Linked DNA regions of Homo sapiens. The protein of the gene in region 2 purifies or fractionates together with the protein of the main gene of each other region. This does not show direct contact. Each region holds a gene or a part of one and is shown on either strand. Other genes may lie near its edges. The genes, in order: JPH1 and ZNF543.

Evidence for each region.
Region 1: the proteins of ZNF543 (region 2) and JPH1 purify together in Homo sapiens (affinity purification with mass spectrometry; one large-scale study listed by BioGRID and IntAct). This does not show direct contact.

Annotation. Positions count from the first base shown.
Region 1 is NC_000008.11:74,258,858-74,262,678, forward strand, and holds part of JPH1 (junctophilin-1), read right to left. Parts: intron 647-3,821; coding exon 528-646; intron 1-527. UniProt on the Homo sapiens protein: Junctophilins contribute to the formation of junctional membrane complexes (JMCs) which link the plasma membrane with the endoplasmic or sarcoplasmic reticulum in excitable cells.
Region 2 is NC_000019.10:57,318,975-57,323,588, forward strand, and holds the start of ZNF543 (zinc finger protein 543), read left to right. Parts: upstream 1-1,497; 5' UTR 1,498-1,879; coding exon 1,880-1,897; intron 1,898-4,614. UniProt on the Homo sapiens protein: May be involved in transcriptional regulation.

The DNA.
Region 1 (3,821 bases), on a different chromosome or scaffold from region 2:
CCATCTCCAGGGCTAACACTCAGACCTCGGGTGATATTTGTTACTACAAGTTGAACATTCCTAATCCAAAAATCTGAAATGCTCCAGAATCCAAAACATTGTGGGCACCGACACGATGCTACAAGTGGAAAATTCCACATGACCGATGGTCACAGTCAAAATGCAGTCAAAACTTTGTTCCATGTGCAAAATTATTAAAAATATACTATAAAATTACCTCCAGGCTATGTGTATAAGGTATCTATGAAACATAAATGAATTTCGTGTTTCAACTTGGGTTCCCAGCTCAAGAGATCTCACTGTGTACATGCAAATACAGAAAAATATCAACAAATCTGAAATCTGAAACACTTCTGGTCCCAAGCACTTCAGATGAAGGATCCTCAACCGCAGGCGCCCTTGCTTGTTTTGTATAATAGTACTGCTGGGATTCAGGAAGCACACATCTTTATGTTGAAAGGAAAAGGAAATAAAAGCAAGCCAAAGCCAGTGCTCCTGCCTCACCCATCAAAGGAGCACTGTTTTACCTGGTTGGTAGAAATCAGGTGACAGCTCCCTGGCCACAGCTCTCGCGATGTCGCACTCCTGGCGAGCGGCCAGCGCGGCCTGGTCGGCGGCATCGGCCTTCGCTCTGGCATGTGCAGTCCTACACGGGGCACAAAAGGACGAGTCAGCATAGGTGACCCCTTGTTACTTACACAGGGACAAGCAAATTGTAATCTGGGAAAAGAAATGTTAATTATGATTATGGCCCGACACCCACAAGAGCAAAAATTTTAGAGTCCTATTGCCGTGAAATTTCAATGAAGATGACATAGATGAAACTAAACTACCCATGAATTGCCTTAGCCCTTCTCTCAAGGGAAATGAAAAGTAAGAGCAAGGTCTGTGTAGCTTGATGCTAAGTGTGGTTTTCAAAACTTACTGGATCAAATCTCCTGTTGACTTTGGTTGGCATTCCTCCCCCCCACCTAAAATTATGGAAAGTAGAATTAGAACATATAAATTAATAGTGTTTATCAAATTCATTTCTACGGTACAATCAATGTAAGAATTTGACTAAGAAAGATCTGCCCACTGGCATGCTGGTGAAGTAGCTCTTTGAAGAAAAAAATTAGTGAAATGGGGATTGGTAGTGTTTATTCATATCCATGTGTAAATGTTCTCACCGTGGCCAATTTCAGGCTACCAGCATAATGCCGTTGGATGTGCAGTGGGGAGATGTGCACTATTGGTGCTCACCAGCAGGAGCAAACCACAAGGCCCGCTCTAAGAACATGCTCAGAAGGGTTCCTGAGGAGCCCATTTAGCTGACTTTTAGGCATGTTTCTTGTATGAACCAAAAAGGAGACAGCGAGGCAGAACTGGCAAGGATGAAATGGATCTTTCAGTCTTCCATCGCCTCCCTGGCCTGTCCTCACTCATGGAAACCTCTCATCTTTCTGGAGGACTAGGGTTATGCGGAAAGTGGCAGGAAAAAGAATAGGGCTTCTTATGGCTGCACCAGGGAATGATGTCTACTGGCCCCAGAGAGGGTTGGAGGGAAGAAAAAAACTCTGGTTTATCTGCTCTGCAAAGGGAAAGGCCTTGTCCCGTTAGTCTTTAGATGTTTATGGGTACCTATTTCTTATGACTTTGTAAATTTTCTATTATATTTTATTAGCACTAGGCAGGGCTATAAATAACTAGCAGTGAAAACTTAATGGAAGTCTGAAAAAGGTGCTTACACTTATGTTGGAGACAGCAGGAGAGAGGAGGAGTTGGGAAAAGGCATGGGCTTTGGATGCTCTTCAGGGAGAACACACGGGCAGCAGCTGGAGGAGGCTGGCAGGCGGAGCTCCTGGGACCAAAACACGGAGGCACCGGGCCTGGCCTGAGACAAGGGGGTCTACTGGTAGGAGGCCCCCTTTTCACATTACTCTCTTCAATAACCTCCTCTTGTCCTGTGCTCTCACGGGACTCCTTTCACTTCTATTTAGGATCTAAGCAAGCCTGAAGGCTTGATGTATTAGAATGTAAGCTTTGTGAAGATTGGAATTTTTAATTTTTGGTCCTCTGTCATAATCCCAAAGTGCAGAACGCTACATTGGCACATACTATTTATTGAGGGACCACTTTATGAATAAAGGAATGAATGATGCTTCCTTAGGAAAAGCTGGGTAGTTCTTAAAACTGAATGGAATGACAAAACCATAGAGACAGTAAAAAGATTCAGAGTTGCTAAGAGTTCGGGGTGTAGTAGGGAAGAATGAATTGGTGGAAAGGAGGGCATATCTGGGGGAGTTTAATTATTCTGCATGATACTGTAGTGGGGGACATTACATATTTGTCAAAATCTATAGACTGTACAACACAAACAGTGAATGAAGCCTGATGTAAACTATGGACTTTAATACTAATATATTAATACCGGTTCATCAATTACACCAAACGCACCTCAAAATGCAAGATGTTAATAATAGGGGATATTGTGTGTGTGCATGAGGAGAGGAGGTGTATGGGAACTTTGCAGTTCCTGTTCAATTTTTCTGATAACTTAAAACTGCTCTAAAAAATAAAGTCATTAAAAATGAGTGGATCAACTTCGAATCATCAAAACTGCTATTTCTAAACCATGGAGGATGCTTTAGATTATTTGTGTATGGGGTATCAAGAAATATGAAATGGAAATAACATCAAGAGGGGAGGGACATATTCTTAAACAACTGGCTGTTGGAATAACCCCTCATGGGTGCCATTGCTGAGGTACGATGGGTAATGCCTTAGTCCTGTGTGTTGTGCCTGATAATCAACAGATGCCCTCCGCTAATGTTCTTTCAGTTTCTCAGAATCTAAACTTTTTTCCCCCAAATGATTTTCCATTTTGTCCGCTATTCTTAGCCAGAGCCTAATTATGTCTAGGTGTCATAATTAATGAAGCCATAAGAGTATAGCTATGCTGCTTTATAATACTATCTATTAGCCCTTTAATGATAAATTTACAAAACTCAAGTACAAGTAACTTATTCGGATTCAATCACGACACACCACCATACAGTCAAATAAAACAGCAGTAGTATATCTACCACTTTTTATAATATGCTAAACTAGAGAATAGACAAATACAGCTTAACCTTTCTGCAAATATATTTTGGAAGCACAGCATCAGTGAAGCCTGCTAGTACTTAACCCTTTACTTTTTTACTTGCTGTTTCCTATAAGACCACACAGCAAAGGAGGACCTTTCTATCCAGCCCAGCTCTGTGGCTCAGTGCTACTGTATAGCTGGCCAGATGAGTCAAGACCACATTCAAACCTGAATCCTGAAGTCTGCTCAAGAGCTTTTGGAACCGATGACAAGAAGGAAGAACAGAAACCCACTCTGAGTTTGCTGTTAACACCAGCCTGTACAGCTAAGGCCACTGGCATGTCTAGATTTTGCCCAGGAATAATCTGGACTTGTCTCTGGCTCATGTTAGTGAATTCATGTGATCACATCCCAGGCTCAGTTCCAGAGTGACACACGACCCCTGTAATCAGTCAATTGCGATTGTTCTTGCGTTGGGGGGTGGGATTCAGGTTAGGCAGTCTGGAGAGATAAGCTGAAACCACTCAAACTGGATGCCCTGATGCTATTGCTGGTCACAGGCAAAAAATGCATACACCAAAGGGGAATACGTGCCCCAAAAGCATTTCATTTATCAAAAGACTGTGACATTTTACAAATCTTCAGACCCTCAAGAATCTCCAAATACCATTATCACAAATACTTTCTCCCATCAAATGCAGTAAAAAGTAACTGAAAAGCGACTTCTTTAAATTAAGCATCAGCTGTTGACTTT
Region 2 (4,614 bases):
CACCTTTTTGAATCTCCAGTGTCTATTATTCCACTATTTCCATATGTATACATCATTTAGCTACCACTTATAAGTGATAACATGCAGTATTTGACTTTGTTTCTGAATTATTTCACTTAAGAGAATGGCCCCCCAGTTCCAGCCATATTGCTGCAAAAGCCATGATTTTTTTTAATGACTGAGTAGTATTCCATGGAGTGTATATATATATACACATATATACATATACATACATATATATACATATATATACATATACATACATATATACATATATACATATACATACATATATATACATATATATACATATACATACATATATATACATATATATACATATACATACATATATATACATATACATACATATATATACATATATATACATATACATACATATATACACATATATATACATATACATACATATATACATATATATACATATACATACATATATACATATATATACATATACATACATATATACATATACATACATATATATACATATATACATATACATACATATATATACATATATATATCGCATTTTCTTTATCCAATCATCTGTCGATGGACACTTAGGTTGATTCTATGACTTTGCTACTGTGAATAGTGCTACAGTAAGCATGTAAGTACAGGCATCTTTTTGATATAGTGGTTTATTTTCCTTTAAGTAAATACCCAATAGTGGAATTGCCAGATCAAATGGCAGTTCTATTTTCAGTTCTTTGATAAATCTCCATACTGTTTTCCATAGAGGTTGTACTAATTTACATTCCCACCAATAGCATATAAGCGTTCCCTTTTCCTTGCATCCATACCAACATCTGTTGGTTTTTTACTTTTTAATAATAGCCACTCTGACCAGTATAAGATGGCATCTCAGTGTGTTTATGTGTGTGTGTTTTCTCTCATCATATCTCATTATAACCTCAAATTCCTGGGCTCAAGCAATCCTCTTGCTTCAGCCTCCCAGTGTCTAGGACTACAGGTGTACACCATCATGCCTTGCTCTTTTTTTTTTTTTTGGTAGATATAACATCTTACTATATTGCCCAGGGTGGTCTCAAACTCCTGACCTCAGCAATTATTTTGTGTTGGCATCCCAAAGCACTGAGATTACATATATGAGCTACCTCCCTAAAATAAGGGAAGTGAGCCAGAAGCTCTGGGCCCAGCCCATGATCTCAATCGGGGCGAATATCCCCGCCTCCTGACCTCAATTTTCCTAAGCTAGAAAGGACCTTTCGACCCTCCGACTTGTGCCCATAGTAAAGCGGCGGCCCTAAGACGACGCGGGGGTCCTTGTGCGCACTTAAATGGAGTCGGCTGCGCTTGGTGAGTTCCCACACCCGGTAGATGTGAGGGAAAAACTGCCTTACTCAGAAGGCACCACCCCTTGCGTCGGCCGCGGACTCTAGGCCAATGACGGGCCAGGACACGGGCGATTTCTGCGGGCCAGGGCGGCGGAGGTGGGACTTCCGCTTCGTCGCGTGACGTCATCTCCGTGAGCAGGATTGGCCCTGGAACAGTGTGGGGCCTGGACCGCTGGGTAGGCGCGTCCAGCGGCCTGAGCAGGGGAGGGTAATGAGGCTGTTACGCGCCTTCTCCGCATCTTGGCGGGAGCCTGACGCCCCGCTTCTTCCCTAACGGGGTGTTCCACCGGCGCCTGCCGAGGCCTAGGCCTCCGCAGCCGCCCTCCGTCTCCTCAGCCCCGACGCTGCGCCCGCTTTGTGCGCATTTTTCTCTGGGGAAACTGAGGCTCCGAGTGCGAAAGTCAGCCGAGGTCGCCCCGCCCAGGACAGAGAAGGGCTGGGGGTCGGCTGAGCCGCGGCATTCCCGGGCCCCGCTAGGGCTGCAGGGTCTCAGGATGGCAGCCTCGGCGCAGGTGAGTGGACGAGGTTTTGGCCTTGCTGCTGCTCTGCTACTTCTGGAGGCCTCGTGGGCAGGCAGAAGCCAAGACAGCCACAGGATGTTTCTTTGTCGCCGTCGTTTATTTAAGAGAAGTGGCCGTAGCTTGTCATTTCCTTTATCCGCAGTCCTGCAATAGTGTTGGCCTCCGACAGGTGCTCAGTCCTTGGTAGAAGGATGAATGATGCTTCCTTCATGGATCTCATCACACTTCCCTTAAATCCAACCTCCTCTGTTGCCTGCCAGCCCCTACCCCATCCACCTGGCCAACCACCCCTGACCTTGTCTCTCCATTTTTCCCTTGTCCTTTGCTCTTCAGAGCCACCAACCTGACCGTGCAGTCTTCTTCCTTTTTCCAGGCTTTCTCTTTGCACTTCCCTTTGCCTTGAACACTGCCCCTATAACTTCGCAGGGCCTCCCTCTCATATCTTTCTGGCCTCTGTCCAGATGTCACCTATTTGGAGGTGGCTTTCTTGGCAATTCCGGCTAAAGTGGCGCCTTACGCACTTGCCCATTTTTGGCAATGTGTGGCATTTTTGTATAGAGAATCTGACGATATTAAAGAAGCTTGCCGTTTGAGTTGGTCTAGGATGTTATGTGAACAAAGAGAAACGAAATAATTGCAAAGAGTGACAGCTGATCATAAAGAGTCCTTGCTGTGGGCTGATTGGCAGGCATTATTTAACCCTCAGCTCCTTTAATCCTGAACTCCTTAGAATTAGGTTCTCTTGTCCTCACTGTTTTACACAAGAGCAGCTGGAGGCTCACATAGGTTCAATTACCTGCCTTACATCACTGTAGCTCTTAAGTATCAGAAACTAACAACTGGTGTGTCTACCATCACAGCCTGTGTTTTTACCCTCTTCTTTGCCCGCAATGGTTAGGGAGGCCTGGGGGTGACACCTAAAGTAAACTTTGCAAGTTGAGCAGGCTTCCTTCTAGCAGGTGGTCTTGGACATGAGGAGTCATGGCATTTCATGCTGGTGGAACTGTGTGGACTAAAAAAAAATGGTTTATTGGTTGTTTAAGGAGTCCGCAGGGGACCCGTGTGGCTTCCACAGTGGTTTCCTGAGTGGTTTTCTCCTATACCAGCTGACACATGTCTTGGGACACAAGATTTTGTGGTCTTTTGCTAGATGTGCCTTCCTCCTTAGCCAGGACAGACATAGCCAGTCAGGGGCCCATGTTCTCATGGCTACAACCTGCTGTGTCCTCTGTGACTCTTGTTCCTTGCTCCTGAAGTATCCTGACCTCAGGGATACTTGTTGGTAGGACTCAAACAGGAAAAGGTAGTGATAGCTCGTTGTGGATTCTTCCTATGAGAATGGGCATCTGTGAGGCCCAGAAGTGTCCGAGGCAGCAGATGCAGGTCCAGGCCCTGCCACTTTTGAGGCAGGTGCCACCACCTCAGGTGACTCTTCTGTGAGGTAGGTGATTATGACTATGCTGCTCTGCCCAGGTCCATGAAAATATTTCAAGTGGCTAACCCCAGCACAGTGGCATGTGTCTGTATATCCAGCTTGGGAGGCTAAGGCAGGAGGATCATGAGTTCAAGCCCAACCTGGGCAAAATATTGAGACCCTGTCTCAAAAAAAAAAAAAAAAATCCTGAAAATATTTTCAGGGTGGCTCAAATGGATGTATTTCAATGTTTCCCATCCTCATTAACTGTGCATTAACTTTGCTAATGAAGGAGTGTCGGGTTGCATGATTAGAACATAGACCATAGGGCCCTGGGTTCAAATTCTGTCTCTCCTGATAAGAGATGTGACTTTGGGTAGACTAGTGGAGGTCCTGGACCTCAAGTCTCTGAGTGTGACATGGAGATGATGATGGTGAACTCAGGAGCTGTGGCCCTTTGCCCCAGTGTTTCCTTTACAGCTTTTCTTCAGATCTTTTGACTATTCTTGGTGAAGTGGAAAACCCTGTTGTGTTGACCTGGACATCAGGGCTCAGATAAATGAAATGAGATTTCCAAGGTCACATAGCAGGCTTGTGTTGATTTCAGGAATTTGGTTTTAAACCTCAGGAGTCTGACTCCTGAGCTGGGGACTTTTAGTCACTTTACCATGGCATGTAAAGCCATTAGCATGAGGCAGGCTCACAGGGAGGATCGGTAAGACTCAGGTGCTGTTCTTGTTGTTGTTGCTGGTGTTGTTTTTGTTATTATTCTTTCCCATTCCTCTGATGTCTCAGAGCACTTACTGTCTTGCCTCTCAGTCCCCTTAGGATTGTCCTAACCTTATTTCTGTGTGAAGTGGCTTTCTGCATAGGAGGCTTCTCTCTCTTCACTGCTGTAATTTTTTTTTTTTTTTTTGAGACGAGTCTCGCTCTGTCACCCAGGCTGGAGTACAGTGGCACGATCTCGGCTCACTGCAAGCTCCGCCTCCCGGGTTCACGCCATTCTCCTGCCTCAGCCTCCCGAGTAGCTGGGAATACAGGCGCCCGCCACCGCGCCCGGCTAATTTTTTTGTATTTTTAGCAGAGACGGGGTTTCACCATGTTAGCCAGGATGGTCTCGATCTCCTGACCTCGTGATCTGCCCTTCATGGCCCCCCAAAGTGCTGGGATTACAGGCGTGAGCCACCGCGCCTGACCGACACTGCTGTAATTTATCCAAGGCAATGTCCACATTCCCCTCATGCCTGGCACAGATCATGGCCCTCTAGAGATGCTTGGTGATTTGATTCTTGGG